Linked DNA regions of Homo sapiens: region 2 is linked to region 1. The links come from fine-mapping of genetic effects on gene expression. Tissue or cell type: blood mononuclear cells. Region 1 holds a variant in brackets; the other region holds the start of a gene. All regions are shown on one strand. Distances are from middle to middle.

What was found. PIP is the estimated chance that this variant, and not a neighbour inherited with it, causes the effect.
Region 2: it holds the start of PNPLA8, and the variant in region 1 is fine-mapped to the expression of PNPLA8 in blood mononuclear cells (TOPMed, PIP above 0.99).

The regions. Positions count from the first base shown.
Region 1 is chr7:108,412,647-108,423,154 of GRCh38, reverse strand. All of the region lies in intron 1 of NRCAM (neuronal cell adhesion molecule), which reads left to right. Among named protein-coding and RNA genes, the nearest start is that of NRCAM, 39 kb to the left of the region's middle. The variant A/T (reference allele first, on the strand shown) is at 5,091.
Region 2 is chr7:108,522,906-108,533,413 of GRCh38, reverse strand. It overlaps PNPLA8 (patatin like domain 8, phospholipase A2), which reads left to right and starts at 7,279. Exons shown (of 11, transcript NM_001256007.3): 1 at 7,279-7,385. LOC124901722 (a long non-coding RNA gene) reads right to left here and starts at 6,939. Exons shown (of 2, transcript XR_007060473.1): 1 at 5,769-6,939; 2 at 3,632-3,963. RefSeq lists enhancers at 6,661-7,000, 7,291-7,410, 7,182-8,142, 8,822-9,357.

The DNA.
Region 1 (10,508 bases):
AATGAGAATCACCGTCCTCTCTACCAAGCTGAAGATGCAGAAAGTCACCAATAGCTCTCAAGTCCCATCCTCAACTATATCCCCCTCCCTTCTCTCCAGAGGTAACCACTGTCTTTAACTCTATTTCACATCCTGCCTAGGTTTCCCTGGGCAGGAGGCAGGATGCTTTCCCCTGCACTCAGCCTGTGCAGTGGCCCCTTCTCTTGGCTCCTGGAGGCTAAGATGGGGGGCTGAAATGAGAGGACCACCCTACTGCAGCCAGGGAAGGTGGGAGTCAGGGCAGGTGGGAAAGGGTAACTCTTTCACTACAGAACGTGGCTGAATTGCTCCTCATTGGACCATCATGTTTTTATTCAGATTATCTTCTCTGGCCTCTTTTATATATTTAGAAAGGAAAATATTGTTACATGTTCAGTGAAATTTTATTAAGCACCTTCTCAATGCCTGGCACTGTTCTTAGTAGGACTTTCTTTATGGGGGTGTAGATTCACTTCAGTCCTCAGCTTCCTATTGCCCTTTTCTTTTTGATTGAGAAACCCCATTATACTTTAAAATGTATCTTTATGTAAAGGATGACCTGTATCTTTTACTTTAAGTGTACTTGTCAAAGTTGGGTGATGTATTTTATATTACACACTCTGCGTCTCAGTTTGTTTGAAAGATTTCATATACATAAAAGAGCTTGGGCCAAAGGGATACAGTAAGTGAGTATTCAGTAAGTGACTTAGCTGGGTGACCTTCAGCAAGATTTTTAGTTTCTTTGGCATTGTTTTTTTAATGTGTGAAAATGGGGTAATAATAGTCCCACCTCCCAAAACAGTTGATGAAATAAGATAATCCATGTAAAGTGTTTACTGCACTGCCTGGCATATAGCACTAAATAAATGTTAGCTACTATAACATGGCATTTTAAGCTTAGAACATTAAGTCATGTTGGAATTTATTTGAAACATTTATTGTAGAATGGAACATAGAGCTTGAAGGCTGTGTGACTGGTATTGCAGCTTAGAGAAGAGAGACAGAAGGGAGGAGCATACTCTGACCTAAGAACTCGTGAAGTGGCTCTTGGAGGAGGTGTTATCAATGAAATGTATTTTGCTGTGGAGGAGGTTGGAATCCCCACTTCCAATAGACCTGTTTTGACTATTTTGACTACTGTTCCACTGTATGTGGCATGCCATAAACATACCTTCGTTTTAGTGGAAAAGGTTGCTGCCATTCTGCTAGTCAGATCTTTTGCCTGCTGTTAGACAAACAGAATTAAGTATGTCGTTAATCTCCACAGGGCAGGTCAGAAGTCTCTCTAGACTCCTAAAATCCTAAACTAAAACCACAGAGTTCTCAAAATAAACTGTGCAGTTTGGTCAGAAATACAAGATGATTGAAGAACAAAATGATTTACTCTGTCAGTGGTTGCTACCCAATTGATTTTTCTTAAGTTGTAGATTGAATAGCTTCAGTTCCTTATCTGGAATACAGGGAAAACAATACCTGCCTCTTTTATTTAATAAACAGAATTGACATCATTTTGTATTTTAACTTTGTACTTTTTTTTCTTCAAGTAATCTTATGAGAAAGATGACAATAGTAATAATGATTCTAATATCTACTTCATGAATAATACTTTTCCTTCTACAAAATGCATTCACATTCTTTATTTCAGTCCATTTTCAGTAGGTTTACAGGTTTGAATTACATTTCTCATTGGGGGTGACTTAGTCTTGCAATGGTCTATATTATTGAATAATTATCAACATTTGAATATATGATCATGAGACATGTAAACATTGATAAATGGCATGTGATATTATAGGCAATACTTTAGCATGACTAGTCAAAGATGAGTTTTTGCAAATTAGCTAAAATATACTAATATCCGGCTCACACTAATTTCTCTCCTAATGCTTTCAGCCTATTCCACTCCATCTAACATAAGATATTATTCTTTTATATTGTTTTACACGTTTTATACACACACATATATACATCTACACTTATAGTCTTTTTTTCGCTAAGCACCTACCATAATGTTGAGCTCATGGTAGAGGCATAATTAATCCTTCTTAACTGGCTATGTAGAGTTGCTTTTCTGTGTATGCTATTTTGGGGTATGTGGGGGAATGAAGTTATGTCTTTGCTTTCCAACAGTTGTGGTTTTTATTAACCTTTAGTTATCAAGCAGTCTTTATTTTTCTACCAACATGCTCTTACTATATTAAAGAGATATTCCTCATGAATAGTTTCTTCCCATTCTACATTTCCTTCTGTGAGTCTTTTCTCTCTCTCACACACAAGATTTTGAAAGATGCTTCCTTAAAGAGCTCCAAGACAGTGTCATGCAATGGAAAGAATGTAAAAGTAAGGGCATGAGCCATCTAGGTTATGCACGCATTAATTGGGTTTCTACTTTGGCCCTTGGGAGATTCAGTAAAGCCTAAGAAAGGAAACCAATGGGGACCAGAGGAAATCAGTAGGAACCACGGATGCCTAAAAATGCCAAGTCACAATGTAAATTCACACAGAATAAGTGTAAAATGAGTAATTGGGCAGTGGGTACTTACGGAGACAGGAAATGTTTTGTGAATGGGGAAATTGTCGTCATATCTTTCCATCTAGCTGAGAAACTCCCCCCCTTGTAAAGGACTGCAGGATTTCCTTAAAATTTGTGGCTAGAAGAAATGTGGATAAGAATCTATTCGCCTATTTATTTACTTTAAAGATCAGCAATTCATATATTGGTAAGACGTTTCCATTTATTCAGAACACACAGACTTTTTTTAGCAAAGTAGTGCTCACTGTTTGGGGATAGAGACCTTCTCAGAAGTCAAAATGCATAAAAGAGACACTCATCAGACATCAAGTGTCTGCAAGGATTTGTGTGTGTCTGAAAAGCAGAATCTCTATAGTAATATCTACTAAAGAGATATTTTTGATGACAGTCAAGATATTCATAGAGGCCAGACAAAGATAAGACCAACACATTTCAGTCCACTTCTGTTTTCTTTCCCAGATTCCTTAACTGGGTACAGATGTTCTGAAAGGATATTCTTTTGTAGATTCAAATACTTGAAAATTAAAAATAAACACACACACACACACACACACACACACACACGATGGAACTAAAATATTTGTAAGTACTTAAATTTGTAAATTCTTGGTTTGCTACCAAATAACTAGAAGATGACTGTGTTGTACATAAAATGGAAAACCAAGTGAAGTGTATTCAGTGGCCTCAGTTTCTCCTTTTTACATACACTCATTTCCCTTCTCTGAGGTGCACCTGGACAGACTTAATGCCTACTGGACACCCTCACCCCGACATCAAAACCTGTTCTCAAGAAAGAATCCAACTTTCATCCACTAGTGAAAATTTAAGTTATTTATTTACCTGTTCTGCTTTAAACTATATCTCTAGTTTTGACATTAAAAGTTTTTATCTTGGATAAAGGAATTTTGTGTGTGGACACGAAAGTGGAGACATGTAACTTTCTGAGAGAAAAGAAGTGCCTTTGAAATGAGAGCACCTGGGTGAGCTCCCACTTTTGTATGGCTTAAGCATGCCTGTTTGTGAGTACATATAATATATACCTCAAACTCTATATATACTGCCAAACTCATGAAGAAAAGGACTGAATGCAAAGTGAGCTCAGATGGGAAGAGCAACATTTGATGAAACATGCAGCTTTATTTTATGTTGGATTTTGGATATTAAAATGCAAAATCTGTAGCAAGCAGGTAAACAGGAAAGAAGTGAGGTAAATGAAAAGCAATATAAATCATATTCTTCCCTGTGAAGTAAGAAATATGTTAAGAGGAGGAGGATGTATAGGAGAAAATTATGAAAGTGAGCTGGTCAGGGTAACGAAGAGAGGAAGCTAATTGGAGATTATCTGAAAATAAAACGTCTGCAGTACCCTCTGGGGAAATTAACTGCCAGATGAGAAGCATATTGTAGGAATACAATGACTAACGTTATCTTCTAAGAACAGTTACGGGGATGAGGGCACTCCTTTTACTTAAAGAAAAGATGAAGCAATGAATCAGATGGCAATGAAAGGAAATACATACGATAAGCCCTAACCAGAGCGGACATACGGTGATTTTTTGTGTGTGTGTGTGAAACTAGTTAAGTATACATATATCCTGTTAGTGCCTCTCAATATCAGAAGGACTAGGGGATATTTTTGGAAGTTATGGGTAGGGAAGAGTCATTCCTGAAACACTCGATTTTTCAAATTTTGAGCAGATTTTTTTCCCCAGAATATTTATGTGGCATGATGTTATTAGACTTGTTACTTGTGTCATATTCAAAAGCCTATACACTGATGGTCAAATAAATGTTTATGCTATAAAATAAGCCAGAAAAAAATCCACACAGTTGTATTAAAATGTTGAAATTATATCAAACCATTTTAATCAATCATGTTAAGTATGGGCCTTCATTATAACTTGAAAATGAGGATGGTGTGTATTTTCTAAGTGCTTACGTGCTCAATAATTGTTCACACATGGGTGAATATATATATACTTAGTGATAGCAACTTTCAGTGCGTGTGTGTGTGTGTGTGTGTGTGTGTGTGTGTGTGTGTGTATAATATGTATACCAGATAAAAGACCTCTCCCTTCCCAGCCAGTGTGTGGTCAGGCCAATGCTGCTTTCACAGGCAGGCTGTGGTGCTGACCACTTCAAGTCAGAATGTCATCGTTTGTCCCATCTATTATTATGCTCTTCAGGAAAACATTTGTCCTAAGATCCTAGCCGTGATTGGTGTCCCTGGAGATGCCCTCCTGCATATTATTCTGTGAGTGGACTTGTCTTTCTTCTCAATAGATGCTTTGATATTGTGTGCTTCATAGAAGCACAGAAATCTTTTGTTTGGTGAGAGAATCTCTACCAATTTCTGGAGAGAATCTCCAGAAATACAAGTCAGCAAGTCCTTTTGCACTGGCCTTGAACTGTGGGGAAGACCACAGAAATGCAGACCTGTGGTAGCCATGACTCAAGGAATTGAGTGACCACACGGCTCCTGGTCACCTAGAAGTCATTTCTTGGTCTGCGTGTCACAGGTGTTGCTTCTGTGGGCATG[A/T]TGTAAGAGCAGAGGGGTTTCCAGAGCTCCATGCTTTTATTCTTCTGCTGAAGTCAGGGTGCATCCCATTGGTTCAGTGTTAGTGATAGCAACTTTCAGTGCTAAATGGCTAAAAGGTTGCAGTTTGGTTTGTGATATTGAGAATTGTTGCCCACTTTGTGTACAAATTGTTAATTCATTGCAGCTTAAGGGCTGCCATAGTATTGGAAAGCTGGGCAATGAGTGACTGTCCGTGAGTGGTATTTAACCAGGTATTAACACCAGTGTCACCTCTGTAACTTGCAAAAGAAAAAAGAAAGAGAGTGAAAAAGAAAGAAAGAGAAGAGCAGAGAAAAGAAAAGAAAAGAAAGAGCCATCTGCCTAGTGTCCAGAGATTTAGAAGTTGAGTTCTGGACATCTGAATTAAAAAGAAAAAATTATAGCTCATTATGACATGAACTCCCAATCAAATTGCTGGAATATTTACCTCAGTTACCAGAAAATTATTTGTTTTCTTTCGCTAGGGTTAGGATGTTTGTCCCCTCCAAAATTCGCGTTGAAATTTAATTGCCTTTGTAACAGTATGAAGAGGTGGGACTGTTGAGAGATGATTAGGCCATGAGGGCTCCACCCTTATAGGTAGGATTGTTGTTATTATAAAAGGATGAGTTTGGCCCCCTTCCCTGTGTCTCTCTTGCTCTCTCTTGTCCTTCTGCCTTTTGCCATGGGATGACGCAACTACAAGGTCGTCACCAGATGTCTGCACCTTGATACTGGACTTCTCAGACTCCAGAATTGTGAGCCAATAAATTTCTGTCCTTATAAGTTACCCAGTCTCAGGTTTTCTGTTATAACAGCTTCAAACAAACTAAGACATCTCCATAGCAATTAAAATAGGCTACTGTTGGCTATTAGCTTAAAGGATCCTTAGAAGCACCAGTATTATTTGATCAAATGGAGGGAAGCGTGTTATGTTGCAAAAGCAGAGAATCATGAGACATTCAATCACTTACTCTTTAAGGGAAGATGGAAAACATTGAAATAAATGGTCAGTGACAACAGTAGCAACATCTGAAAAGTGATGTTCCCAAACTAGGAATCTCTCTGGAGAATATGTGTTTGTAATGTCCGTTAATTGCTCAGGGAAATGAACAGCATGGATCTGAAATGGGAGGGACCTGTCATAAATAGCACAACCTCTTCCAATGGTTTGCAAGAGTAGGTGCTGTTTGATAGAAGGGTTAGTAAGATCCATGAGGAACCTCCCTTAATTATGAATGGCAATAGTAATTAACAGGATGTGTGAACTGCTCTGCAGTGATGGAAATTTCATCTGAGTTTCCTTTCCTTTTTACTGGTTTCATTCTGCCTTGTTGGAGAAGGTCCCATGCCTTCAACTATACAGACATGAAATTCAAATCTTGAAAAGCATACTATAAAAACCCAAGTTTTTCCTTGGGGGTATTAGTCTGTCTAGTTAAGGAAGACTTTTTTTTTTTAATTATTTGTCTCTTTCCCGAAGTAGTAGGCAATTAGACATCAAATGAAATTAAAAATCCCTACATGATTGTCTCCTGGCCAGAACATGTTGCCTGCTGCCATAGAAACAGCTCTCTGATCTCAGCGGTGATGACAAAGCATAGTTCTGACAAAGCAGGTTCCTTTGCCACACGCCTGTGGTTTAATCTTTTCCTCTTTTCCCCCGTGAGGCAGTTCTGTCTAGCGTTGTCAACCATGTCAATTTTGCTAGAATGTCTCAAAACATCTGTAATATGCTGATTAAAATAGACACTATGATACTATAAAAGAAATGTGCTGTTTTTCTGCTGTCTCTATCCTACTCCTGGAATTGCATCTGCAGTTTTATTTAAAGCAAATGCAGCATTCAAATCTCCTGTAGTTATTCTTGCTCCATGAAGATGAATATCTTAGTCATGCTGATCTGGAGGGATGGGCTCACATCAGCAGCTGGCCCGTTCTGTCATGGAAGAATCACTCTTCTGGACTGGAAGAAGCAAGTGAAATGTTTCTGAAATGTTTGCAGCATCTCTCAGAGGAAAAGGGAACTTCATGACAGAAATAAAGCCAGAGAGGGCCACTGTGAAAAACACTGGAGGGTAAAAATAACTACATAAGAGCAACCATGTGGAAACCACGGAGCCCTCTCATCTCCTTTTTGGTTTTGTTTTTTTGTTTGTTTTTTGAGAGGGAGTTTTGCTCTTGCTGCCCAGGCTGGAGCGCAATGGCGTGATATCAGCTCACTGCAACCTCCATCTCCTGTGTTCTAGTGACTGTCCTGCCTCAGCCTCCCAAGTAGCTGGGATTACAGGTGCCTGCCACCATGCCCGGCTAATTTTTTGTATTTTTAGTAGAGGCAGGGTTTTGCCATGTTGGCCAGGCTGGTCTCAAACTCCTGACCTCAGATGATCCACCCACCTTGGCCTCCCAAAGTGCTGGGATACAGGCATGAGCCACTGCGCCCGGCCTTCTTCTCCTTTTTATGGGTAGAAATTAGGATGTAGGCCAACCATTTAATCAAGAAGCATTTATTATCTCTTTTTATCATGCTTCTTTCCTGCCATGCCCATTTCTCATTGCATCAGATCTAAGCCCCCTTTTGATGTTTTAGGAAGTCATTAAATAATGTTCCTGTCCTCCCTCCCAAGTTTGCACCATTTGAGAAAGACGACACAAAAACCAGATTGAAGGAGAAGTGCCAGCTTGATTATAGTTCAGGCTGACTGGGGAAGTGATTAGACGTGCGGCCACAGGGCTTCCAGGTACCTCCTTCTCCATTAGACATTGTCACCCTCAAGGTCCCACCGCAGGCTGTTGCTCACACAGGCAGGCCTGCCAAGGAAAGGTACCCCTGTTGTCAGATGGCAGATATGAAAGGGAAACCAGAAGGCTCAGGGCCAAGAAGACCTTGTTTCTTCCCCCAGATTCCTTGTGCTGTTGGCTCACAGGTGTGATGGAGGGTGTGGGAGAAGCTGGGAATATTATACTGCAACCTCCTAAGAAATGGAGTATTTTTTTTCTTTTTCATCTCTTCTGTGGTAATATGAGGAGTAGCAAATGCCCTTCACCTCCAAACCCCTCTGTCTTGCCTCCACAGCCCTCTGCTATGAACCCTGGACTCACCCTGCTGCTCCCCAGCAAGCCCCTCTGTTCAGGGAAACCCAATGTCCTTCAGGCTCTCCCTGCTTCTCCTTACCACGCCCACTGTTGTGGTTGTGCTGGCTTCACCAAGGTGACTCTTCTCCAGGGAACACACTCCCTGCAGTCTTCCCCCCTTCTCTGTCTTCCCAGCGTTTTTTTAAGCCCCTCTTCCTAGCAGTCTGCCGTGGGTGAGATCTGATGGTTTTCCTCTTCTCTGTGAATACTTTTTGTTTTATTCTGGGCCCTGTACACTGAGTGGTATCAAATGGCTCCCATTTTCTAAAACACTGAACAATTTGCCCTCTAATTACATTCATTCATTCCTTTGTCTTTTTCACTTATTGTTACATAGGTAGAGTCTGGCCTCCCCAGTTAGATTGTGAGGTTGTTGTGGACAGGATTCACTTCTTTTATGCCTCTTTTGTACCCTTTCTCAGGGCTAGTCTAATGTAGAGTGGAGAGTTTATGTAGATAATTGTCTTAGCCTGGGTTCCCTAGAAAACAGAATCTGAGCTCACTTGAGAAGGTTTTATGAGGAGATGGAATTCCAGGACAAAAATAGTGAGGGAACGGGGGAAGCCAGACAAATAATACCTAACAGTGCTTTGCCAAGCTGTCCAAAGCTTCTCAAGGAAATACAGCTGGTTGCTCTGTGACACACACTGTCTTGCAGACAGGTCTTTGGGATCACACTGTACTTTGCAACAGTCTGTCACAAGAAGGAATGGCAAGGAATTGATCTTTTAGCTCCTTCTTGTCTCCTGTCTCTTACTGGTCAAGGTTTCCGCATTAAGTTTTAAGTTCCTGTTTTCAGATTATGTTACCATGACCCTCTGATCAGCCTCTGGGAAAGCCAGATCCTATACCCCACAGCAGGGTGCTTCGTTGGAATGTAGAAGTGGTTCAAGAAGCCAGAGTCTCTATAATAGCAGCTACACAGGATGAGGGTGCAGGGGTGTAGCTCCTGCTGCAGTGTGGACATGACAGAGGCTGAGTCAGAGCCATCAGCTACAGAGAGGCTGAGACAGCTGATGGTGTTGGGAGAGAAGATGGTGGCTGTGGCAGGGACTTTACACTGAGCAAGCAGCCAGAGGAACAGTGTGGAGAGGGGCAGGCAAACCTGGGAAAGCAGAAAAATTGGACTCAATACAGCACCAAATGAATTTCTATTGGCTGGATAACTAAATATAATAAATGTTTGATAAATATTTATTGATGTCTGTTGGTTAATTGCCCCCTATATTCCTGTCTTACTGTACTTATTGGGAGATACAAAGGGAAACCTAAAAGCCAATTTAGACTAAATATGTAAGTGTTGAAGGATCAGAGTAAAGGAAGAATAAAAATGTGTGAGATCAAGGTAATTAATCAAGGAGGGCTTCCTGGAGGAGGTGAGTTTTGAGTTGTCTTTCAAAGGCTATAGTGGTAAGGATTTATAAAGAGGAAAGGGTTATTTGGAATGGGAGAAAATATTGGCAAACCATACATTTGATAAATGGTTAATATCCAAAATATATAAGGAACTGAAACAACTCAATAACAAGAAGACAGCCCAAATAAAAAAATGGGCAAAGCACCTGAATAGACATTTTTCAGAAGAAGACATACAAATGGGCAACAGATATATGAAAAAGTGCTCAACATACTAATCATCAGGGAAATGTAAATTAAAACCACAGTGAGATATCACCTCACACCTGTTAGAATGACTATTATCAAAAAGATGAAAGGTAGGAAGTATTGGCAAGGATGTGGAGAAAAGAGAACACTTGTTCACTGTTGGTGAGAATGTAAAGTAGTACAGCAATTATGGAAAGTAGTATTGTGGCTCCTCAGAAAATTAAAAATAGAACTACCATATGATCCAACAATCCAACTGGGCATATGTCCAAAAAAAATGAAATCAGTATCTGAACTCCTGTGTTCATAGCAGCACTATTCACAATAGCCAAGACATGGATCAACCGAAGTGTTTATCTATGGATGAATGGATAAAGAAAATGCAGTCTATATATACAATAGAATACTATATAGCCATAAAAAGAATAAGATCCTGTCATTCACGACAACATGGATGAACCTGGAGGACATTATGTTTAGTGAAATAAGCCAGGCACAGAAAGACAAATACCACATGATCTTACTTTCATGTAGAATCTTTAAAAAGCTGATTTCATAGAAGTAGAGAGTAGAATGGTGGTTACCAGGGGCTGGGGTGGTGGGAACGGAGGGAGGTTTGGGAGATGTTGGTCAAAGGATACAAAACAAGTTAGGAGGAAT
Region 2 (10,508 bases), 110 kb before region 1:
TATTTCAGTTAAATTTAAGTTTCAGATAAACAACAAATAATATTTTTAGTATGAATATGTTCCATGCAATGTTTACTTTGCTAAAGCTGACAACTCCATCTCTAACCCCCTTTTGGAATCAATAACTGCTTCCTCTGAATTCTCACAGTACTTTGTTGGTTCTTCTGTTACATAACACATTTCATTTTTCCTTGTTTCATGGTGACTGTAGACATCTGACTCTTCTATAAGACTACCAAACCTTCAAGGGCAGGAACTATATCTAGCTCACTGTTTTGCATATAGTTGGTGCTCACAAATGCCATTTCTTTTGAATTGAATTTAGCATCCTACTACATTGACTCAAGCTAGCCTCTTACTTCAAATAATATAACTGGAAACACTGTCAACTTCTTTTCAGCCCCATTTAGTATTGGTATGCCAATAATATTAGCCAAATTTACTGTTTATCCTCTGTGTGCATTCTACAAAATTGTGTAGGTCACGAGGGCTAGGACTATCTGTTTTATTGACTAGGGCATATTCAAAGACTAACACAATAATCAGGTCATTAAATGTGTACAAGAAATATGTTTTATAAATACTAGGCATTTTACATGTATTATTTCATTTAATCCTCCACAAACCTTATGAGTATTAGTGTGCCCATTTATTGGATGAGAAAAGTAAGAGTCAGAGAGGTTATGAATCTTGCTCACTATTGTTTTGGGAGTGATAAAATAATAACTCTGATTCATAGGCTGTAACGTCTATACTTGAATGATTTTATGATACAATATAAGCAAGTATTGCTGCCTTTTAAAAAATAGACATTCTGTCTCAAACTGAGTCCAAATGTCCTTGAAAAGGTCCTCATAAATGATATCTTTTTCAGCTTTTGGAACTGAGACTTAAAAGTTGGGTAATTTGTTCAAATAAGTGGCAAAGCTTAGAACTGGAATCTAAGTATTGCCTACAGTAAAGCACATGTTCATCCCTGGCACTGTCCTTTCCAAACATTGTTGGTCCCCAACAAACCTCTAAGTTCTTTGAAACTATAGATTGGCATTAAAGGAAAAGTGCTACTTGCTCCATCGCATTTAGGCACTGGTTCATTCATACATTCCAACCAGTGTTTATCTGCTTGCTGTGTTGCCTGGCCTTTTTGTTTTTCTGCCCTGTATTTCTCTCCTTCCGTGAACAACTTTTCCCCAAAACAAATTCTGTGGTTCTATGAGAGATGCTGTTTTCACACTAGGACCCTGTTGAGGGGTTTGGAGTAGTCTGACCATGCTGTTTGATCACAGTACCTCATTCTCTGACCATAGATCATAATGCACTTACATTACTGAATTGGGATACTGAAAATTTTACTAATGAAAAAAGGGAGGCTTGTGGGAATTATTTGCCCACAGTATCACAACCAGTAAATGGTGAGGGAGGACAGGACTCCAACCTTGCCTTAAGTCTGAAGTTAAGCAATGCAAACATTGATACTTGCCTATAAGAAACTAACATGCGCCAGGGCACAGTGGCTCATGCCTGTAATCCCAGCACTTTGGGAGGCTGAGGCAGGCGGATCACAAGGTCAGGAGGTCAAGACCACCCTGGCCAACGTGGTGAAACCCTGTCTCTACTAAAAATATAAAAATTAGTCGGGAGTGGTGGCACATGCCTGTAACCCCAGCTACTTGGGAGGCTGAGGCAGGAGAATCACTTGAACCTGGGAGGCAGAGGTTGCAGTGAGCCAAGATCACACCACAGCACTTCAGCCTGGGCAACAGAGCGAAACTCCATCTCAAATAAAAAAGTAAAAGAGGCCGGGTGTGGTAGCCCACACCTGTAATCCTAGCACTTTGGGAGGCAGAGGCGGGCAGATCACCTGAGGTCAGGAGTTCAAGACCAGCCTGGCCAACATGGTGAAACCCCGTCTCTACTAAAAATACAAAAATTAGCTGGGCGTGGTGGCAAGCACCTGTAATCCCAGCTACTTGGGAGGCTGAGGCAGGAGAATTGCTTGAACCTGGGAGGTGGAGGTTGCAGTGAGCCGAGATCGCGCCACTGCACTCCAGCCTGGGCGGCAGAGTGAGACTCTGACTCAAAAAAAAAAAAAAAGTAAAAGAAAGAAAGAAAAGAAATTAACATGCAATTGAATATGGGGGCATTTTTAGACTTATTCCAACTTTTCAACTGGATGAGTTGTCATAGAAATAAGCAAGGCATGGAATAACCTACAAAAGTATTAGGTAAAAGGTAAAATCTAACTCAGATTCAAAAGTAAGTTGGAGAAAATACAATTATGTGTCCTTAATATCTTAATTTTATGTTGCTACTCTTGTGCCAAAACCTTAGCTATAACCTGTCTATTAATAAAACTATTCTTTCTTCACCCAGAAAATCACCTTATATATAACTGGTTTATTTCCCACTGGTTTAGTTCCTCTAAGATGTCCCAGCAGGAAGCTGGATAAACTGGTCTCAAGCCTGATAGAGAGGCCTGAACTGCAGGTATAAATAGGCAAATTCTTTAAGGCAGTTTTTAAGGTGGAGAAAGAATGATTTTTTTATTAAAAGGTTAAATAGGAAAACAGTAAATATGACAACAACAGGACTCCTCATCTTCTTCAAATCTTGCCCTCTCATGGTACCAAAAAAATGTACTTAAAACTTAAATTCCACCATGTTATTCTTTTGTCTTAGAATCTGACAGTGGTTCTGATCACCCAGAAGATCAGGTCCAAGTTCTTCAGCTCTCACCCAATCCTTATATTACATTTCCAGTACAAACATGGAACACATAGTTCCCTTCATGCACTATGTTTTTTCCTGCCTTATTGCCTTTTATTACAAACATCACTTCTCTCTGTAAAGCTCTCTCCTTTCTCTTCCCACTTTTACCACTCCACTACTGCCATCTGTCTTGCTAGCAACATCTTTTAAGACTTGGTTCAGAAGTTCCTTCCCAACACCACAGGCTGGGGTAGGTATTCCTGCTCTAGACTCATAATATCCAGTTCATGTCTCCATTAGTGCTCTTTCTACATTAATAGTATTATTACCTAAGGTTATATTTTGAGTTCCGTGACAGTGCTTCAATTTTTTACCTCCAGCAAATAGCTTGGTGCCAGGCACATAGTAAGCACTCAGTAGATAATGGCTGAATGAATAAATTCAATTCTTTCAATATGCACTCACCAAATAGTTACTGAACAATTAACTTTTTTTTTTTTCTTTTTCAAACGGAGCCTCACCCTGTTACCCAGGCTGGAGTGCATTGGCGCGATCTCGGCTCACTGCAACCTCCTCCTCCCGGGTTCAAACCATTCTCCTGCCTCAGCCTCCTGAGTAGCTGGGATTATAGGTGCCCGCCACCACGCCCAGCTAATTTTTGTATTTTTAGCAGAGATGGGGTTTCACCATGTTGGCCAGACTGGTCTCCAACGCCTGACCTCAGGTGATCCACCCGCCTCTGCCTCCCACAGTGCTGGGATTACAGGCATGAGCCAACGCTCCGGGCCACACTTTATTAATAATTGCTGTGCCTTGGTGCTAAGGATCAAAACAGAAAATCCTTGCTTTCATGTTTTCAAACTATATAAAGATAATTATATTAATTTCCTATTGCTGCTGAAACAAAACACTTCAAATTTAGTGGCTTAAAACAACTCAAGTTTATTATGTCACAGTTCTGTAGGTCAGAAGTCCAGCAAGAGTTGACTGGTTCCTCTGTTCCAGGTCTCATAAGGGTGAAATCAAGGTGTCAGCTTACCTGAGCTTTTGTCTGGTACCTCTGGGGAAGAGTGTGCTTTCAGTTTTATTTAGGTTGTTGACAGAATTCAACTCCTTGCGGCTGTGTGGCTGAGGTCTCCATTTCCTTGCTGGCTGTCAGTCAGGAGCCGCTCTTGGTTCCCTATGGCAACCTGCATTCCTTGTCAAATTGTTCCTCTCATTATCTTGATCTCTCTGACTTTCGCTTTGCCACATCTGTACTGATTTTAAGGATTTATGTGATTAGATTGGGCCCACAGAGATAATCCAGGATTATTTTCCTTTCTTAAAATCTGTACCCTTAATTACATCTGCAAAAAGTCCCCTTTGCCATGTAAAGTAGCATATTCACAGGTTCTAAGGATTTGGGCATGGGCATTTTTTAGAAGGCCATTCTTCAGCCTACCATGGTGATTATTCTTCTAGAATTATTTTCTGGCATATCCCTCCCTTAGGTGATCTGGAGAGATATCTTGCACCAATATGGCTTAATTTATTTTGGTTATAATGTTAAGTTTTATTTGAACAATAAAGATATTAGCAGCTCTTTTAAAAAGCTATGAACCAGACCAGAAAGGAGTGACTATGGATGTAGAAGAGCTAAAATAGATAAATCAATAATAAACCTTATAAATAGAATGAGCATAGCAAGTAACTGATACAGGGCAATGTGATGTCTCTTTTACCCAGCTTCCAAAGAATATAGCGTTGAACAATTACTGTATTTAGCATTATTTCAAGTATAGATGATTTCCTGAAGGCATTAGTCTGCTATTATACACAAGATAATCTCCAATTTTGCATACTACTGAATTTGTTTGAAATTAAATATAATTCTCTTTTGTCTCAAAACTGCCCAACATCAAAAGAATCATAAATGGGTTTTATTTTCCATTTTTAACTTATCAAACTAGTAATCTAAATGAAACTAAAAATCAATTCAATAATACAGAATTTTAGAGAGTCTACTATTTGTTGGATGTTACGCTAGATCCAGACAATACAGTTTACCTTACGCTCCTTGACTGCAGGAAACTGGCAGGCATATAAACAAATAAATTATAATACTGTGCAGCAAGGGCAATAAGAGAAGTGAGCACAGGTGGAAGGAATGATTCATTCTATGAGTAGTGAGGTAAGATTTTCCTGGCTGAAGGACAAACAAATCTTTAGGAGGACAAGGTGGAAGGGGAGCTAAGCCAACAGCATGACCAAGGCACTAAGTATGAAAAGGAACAAGAGTATCTGGGGAAGTACAGGTGTGGCTGGAGGATAGAGAGTGAGAGGCAAGTGGTGAAAGTAAAGGCTGGAAGGTCAGCAGGGTCAGAACCTATAATTTCATTCGGTATATTCTGTGAAGATGTACAGCCAGCAAAAGCTTTTTAATTCGGGAAAACACGATTGGACTTGCACTTTCAAAAGATTACCGTGGTTGCACAGAAGAGACTGACTGGGTCAGAGGTTAGTTACAGGCTGGAAAACCAGTTTAGATGAAACTGAAGAGCAAGGATGAAAGCCTGAACTAGAGCAGTGGAAATGCGAATGTGGAGCAGAGGAACGATTCAAGAAATTCTGCGGTAAAACTCATCAGACTTCATGACTGATTAAAGGTATGGTGGTAGACAAGGGAGGGAGAGGAAGGATAAGAATGGAGAAGCAGGAATTGGGCGTTATTTGAAAATTTCTGACATGGGAGGAAAATCTGGATATTTAATAACATCTGACTAAATTAGGGGATGAAAGAGCATAAGCGGAGAGGGAATGGTGGTGCTCTCTCCTTGACCATACTTTAGTTAGGCTCCTCTGAGCCCTCTTCCCAACTAGGCCTCATCCTTGGGCCCCTGTCTTAGGCCTGCTGAGTCCAGTTTTAGCAAGAATCTTGCAAAGTCAGTTTAGAGAGTATCTCCTAGCCTTGATAATTGATCATCTCCGCCTGTCTTCAGCAAGAATCTTGTAAGTCACTTTAACAAGAATATCCCCGACCCTTGATATCACTTCTTAGTAATTTTCCATGAACTGACCCCTCAGTCTGCTTGCTGGTTATAAATCCTAGCTGTTTTTGTTGTATTAAAACTTGAGGCCAATCTCTCTCCCCCATGGTGATAGTCATGGCACCTATTGCAATAGTTCTAAATGTCTTCCTTGACATTTTAACAAGTGTCAGAATAATTTTTCTTTAGCAACAAGGAGGAATCTGTCTCAAAAACTAAAGCTCCTTCCACACGCCTGTAAGGCTTAATTGGTGCATACATCTTTTAACTCTCCTGTAGCTAAATAACATGTCTGGCTTATCCACTGCTGGGGTTTACCAGGCATTATGATGTACATAATCCAGACACTGTGTCCCAAGAACATAGCAAGCTGGCTTTCCCTCCTTGATTTAAAAAAATCAAAACAACACAACTATCAGGGTAACATCCACTACATTTGACAGGTCAAAGAATCCCCTTCCTTAAGGACTTTACAATAACCTTACAGGGGGCTAAAGCATACATACCCATGGGTAGTGGGTAAGCCTTGAGAGTACAGTATAAGTCTTGATAACATTTTGAGGTTGATAACTAGTTGAAACTGATCTGTTTTCCCGACCTCAACGTAATTGCAAGGTCACTTCAAGAGGGTAAGGGGCTATTGCAACTACCCAAATTCGCTATTGTAGTATAAAAGCTTTAATTAACAGCATGTATAGGAATGCAAAGCTATGTTCTAATGAAACTTTAAAAAGCAGACACAAATATGAATGTCATATAATTGTCATCTGTCGCAAAACTTTTTTTTTAACCTTTGAAAAATGTGAAACCCATTTTTAGCTCCTAGTACAGCAGAACCTGCGGTGGGCTGGATTTGCCCTGAGGGCTGTAGTTTGCCCCTGTGGTACGTATGAAATGCCACAATTTTAAAAAGATGTGTTACGTGTGGGACCATTTGTGGGGCGGTTTATGCTAACTTCCAATACAGTAATATATGTCAACTCGCTTTTGAGTGACATTTAGTCTGGGTGGCCATGCCCAGGAATGGATATAGAGAAAGGGGCGCGGCCGCGCCGGGCACCACCCTCCAAGAGACTGGTATCGCAGCCCCCAGCTCCAAGGAACTCAGCGCAGGCAGGGGCTTCAGGGACGCGGAGAGGGAGGCTTATCTCTGCTGAAAGGGAATAGCGGCCCGCAAACAAGCAAACCAGGACACTGCTCCGAGGTCCCGCCCAGGAAGGCAAAACGAAGTCCCACCGCTCTCACACCCGGCAACCAACCAAGGCACAGCACGCCCCACCAGCAAGCCACGCCTCGCGCATCACGCACGCACGCACGCACGCACACACGTCTGTCGCGGCTTCCCGCCTTGCGCTCCGTCATGCTCTATTGCGCATATCTCGGGGCGGGGGAGGAACGGAGATTGACAAGGAGGCAGAGGCCTGAGCGAGGCGGAAAATCCTCACCCCGGCCCGCGGGTAGACCCAAACTTCTAGCGCGTCACTTCCGCTGGGGGCGGAGCGGGGCGGGGCTGAGTGGGTGGCGACCTAGCTGCTGCGCCAGTGTTTGTGTTGGAAGCTCAGCTGATGCAGGCCGGTTGGAGTGGACGTCATTGCCGGGAACGAGCGAGTCGCCGCTGCAGCCCTAGTGACTGCGGCCTGCATCCCGGTAAGTAGCCGCGAGGGGACAGGGGCGGGACGATAGGAGGCTGGTTGATCGTTCTGGACCCTTGTCCGGCGCTCCGGGTCGTCCTTTCTTTCTTTGGAGGGCACTTCCCGAGCGAGAGGGTGGGGACACGCCAGGCTTTGGGGAGGAGCTGGCGCTGGAAGGAGCCCGCAGGTCCTGGAGCTCATTGGTACTCGGCGCCCTCCGCCCCCGTGGGCTTTGCTGCCCCAGAAGCGCAAACCGTATTTGGTTTCGCAGGTCCCGCCCTGCTCCCCCTGTCCCATCCCCACGACTCCCTCCTCAATTTTCCAGAGTCTGTCTGCCTTCCCCTGGACTGTAGTGTTCTCCAGTAGTTAACTGGTCACTCTCAGGAGGGTTTCCCTAGTCTACATCATTCTCGACTGTCAGTGTGCACCTGGTGATTCTACTGCCTGATATTTTTTGTCAGTAATCTCTTTCTGACCCCATCCACATTTGATTCTATCCTTGACCGCTGTTGCTTAAGTGGATAAGGTGTATGAATCACTGTGTTGCAGTGCTTCCTATCCCTGTGTCATTTCTATCATTGTGCTGGAAGGAACCTGCTTTCCACGCCTAATACAATGATAACTTTAAAATGGTGACTCATAGGAAAAACTCAGGAGAGTTGTGACATAAGGGACTATCATATAATCCTGCTTAAAATACTGTTTTCAATTCCAAAACAGTTGTATCCTGGTTCTGCAGTCCTAATTTCTGAGAGTTCAAAAATGACAAATGTTTCAGTGTATTAAGAAAATGCTGTTAAACAGTGAAACATTAAGAGCTTATGCCTTGTGAGGCAGTTGTATCAAGCCCATTTTAGCTATTTTGTTAAATTGCTTATGCAAATTAGTTGTCCTTTCAATATAAGAACATGTTTTTATTTCGTAATTATAATCAACTTTTTCTTAATGTTGATCTCTTTTTTTATTTCTATATCAGGACTAAATTAAAATCTTGTAAACGCCCTTTTAATGAGTGATGTTGAATGAAAGGGCCAGTTTCACTAGTTTAGCTATTCACTTGTTTCACATGCAAAGTTGTTACAAGAACAGCCTGTACTTTGAGTTGTTTTTTTTTACCCCAGTTAGAGGGGTTGTGCTGAAGCTGCATATTGCTTCACTCATGGAATATATATTTGTAAAAAGGTCAGAGTTAGAATGCTGAGCCATAGACACCTTCCTGTCCTGCCATTTTTTGTTGTTGTTGGGAGTCTCTCTCTGTCGCCCAGGCTGGAGTGCCTTGGTGCGATCTCGACTCACTGCAAGGTTCAAACGATTCTCTTGCTTCAGCCTCCCGAGTAGCTGGGATTTACAGGCGTGCGCAACCACACCCGGCTAATTTTTTTAAGTAGAGACGGGTTTCCCCATGTTGGCCAGGCTGCTCTCAAACTCCTGGCCTCAGGTGATCCGCCCGCCTCGGCCTCCCAAAGTGCTGGGATTTCAGGCCTGAGCCACCGCACCTGGCCAGTCATTTCTTAGTTCTTATCTTTCTCTGCAGTACTCAAGTATTTTATTCTGTTCATTATCCATTACTTGAAAAAATTTGGTCCTGTCTTGGTTTTCAGTGTCCTGATTTTTTCAGGGTGGCTTTTCTCCTGTTTTGTTTCCTTTAGAGTCTTTTCTTCCTCTTCCTAGCTCTGGGTGGCACTCAAGGCTCTACCCCTGTCGCTCTCCCTAAACCAGAGTTTCGTGTTTGAAACCCAAATATACTTCAGTGGGCATGTGAATATCCTGAAATATTATGGAAAATATAGTTTGTATTGCAAATACACATTTTTCAAGGAAGAAAAGCTTTACTCAGGTTGCCTGATCCCAAAATAGTCATGTATTATTACTGTAAACTATCATCTGGTAAATACGTCTAATGTTGTGGTTTCTGCTGCCACTATGCTGGTAATTCCACAAGTAAATCCACAGTCTGTGTACATTTCCATTTGAATGTCCCACTGTTACTTCATCCTGTGAATCCAAAAGAAAATGTGTTTTTCTCTCCTATTAAATTGTCCCCTTCACAGTTTTCTCATATTCGCAAATGGCACTCTCCGTATTTTTCAGATTTAAAACCTTAGAGCTCTCTTAACACTTCCCTCTCTTTACCCCATTCTTGGCTGTCAAGTCCTGTGTTTTGTTGTTTTCTCTTTTTTCCCTTACTTTCAAAGTGTTCAGAGTGGCCCTCTTCCCCACACTAGTACTTGCTGGGTGAGGTGTCAGAGCCCCAGCATCAGAAAGTGGTCAGCTTGGGGTAGTAGGGTAGTAAGAAAAATTTACCGACAACACCGTAGGTTTGAAAAGGAAAGTTTTATTGGATAGAAAGAGTGCTGCAGAAGAGTGCAGCCAGGCGCCTCAGCAAGAGAGGACAGCTCACCGCAGTGGATTTTTTCTTAGGGGTATTTATGGACCTTAAAGCAGAAGCTGAAGGGTAACTTGGACCATATTAGCCACGTAGGTCATGATCAGTGATTACATTTATAGACATTTTGGTGCTTTGATATCAGCAAAAGTTGCACAGTGAGTTTCGACATGCATACATTCTGGACATGTATAGAGATTCTAGTTACTTATAAATTTCTGGGAAAGAATCCTGGTACCAGATGCCGGCTTTAGCTAATAGAGAAGTCTAATTGTTTCTGAATTCCTCAGATAAGGAGCTTTCCCTCTGGATGGTCTGCTCGATGGCCACCAGGTGATCTTTGCTCTCCTCAGTACTGTTACCTTCAGACTGTTGTCACCCTTTTGACTGTTATATTAATAATTAAGTGACATACTCTGTAAATTCATTCTTTCCATCCTTAGCTGGGTCTCCATCTAACAATTCCCTTAATTCCTCTAGTTAAAACTCCATTCCCTTCTCTAAGTGTTTGGTCCCAGCCTCTCCGTTTTGTTTTATTCGTACCTCCATTGTATTTATACTACCTCTATTCTTCCTTGCTCTTTTTTCAGTTGATGATAGCATCTCACTTTACATTCTTCTTCCTGTGTTTTTGCCATCTAACTTCTGGCTGAATGTACTCTCAAAACACTTACCTTGCATTTACTAGTGTTGTGATTTGGGGGCAATTAAACTTATTGATTTTGTTGGTCATCTTTGTTTTGTAATTTTTGC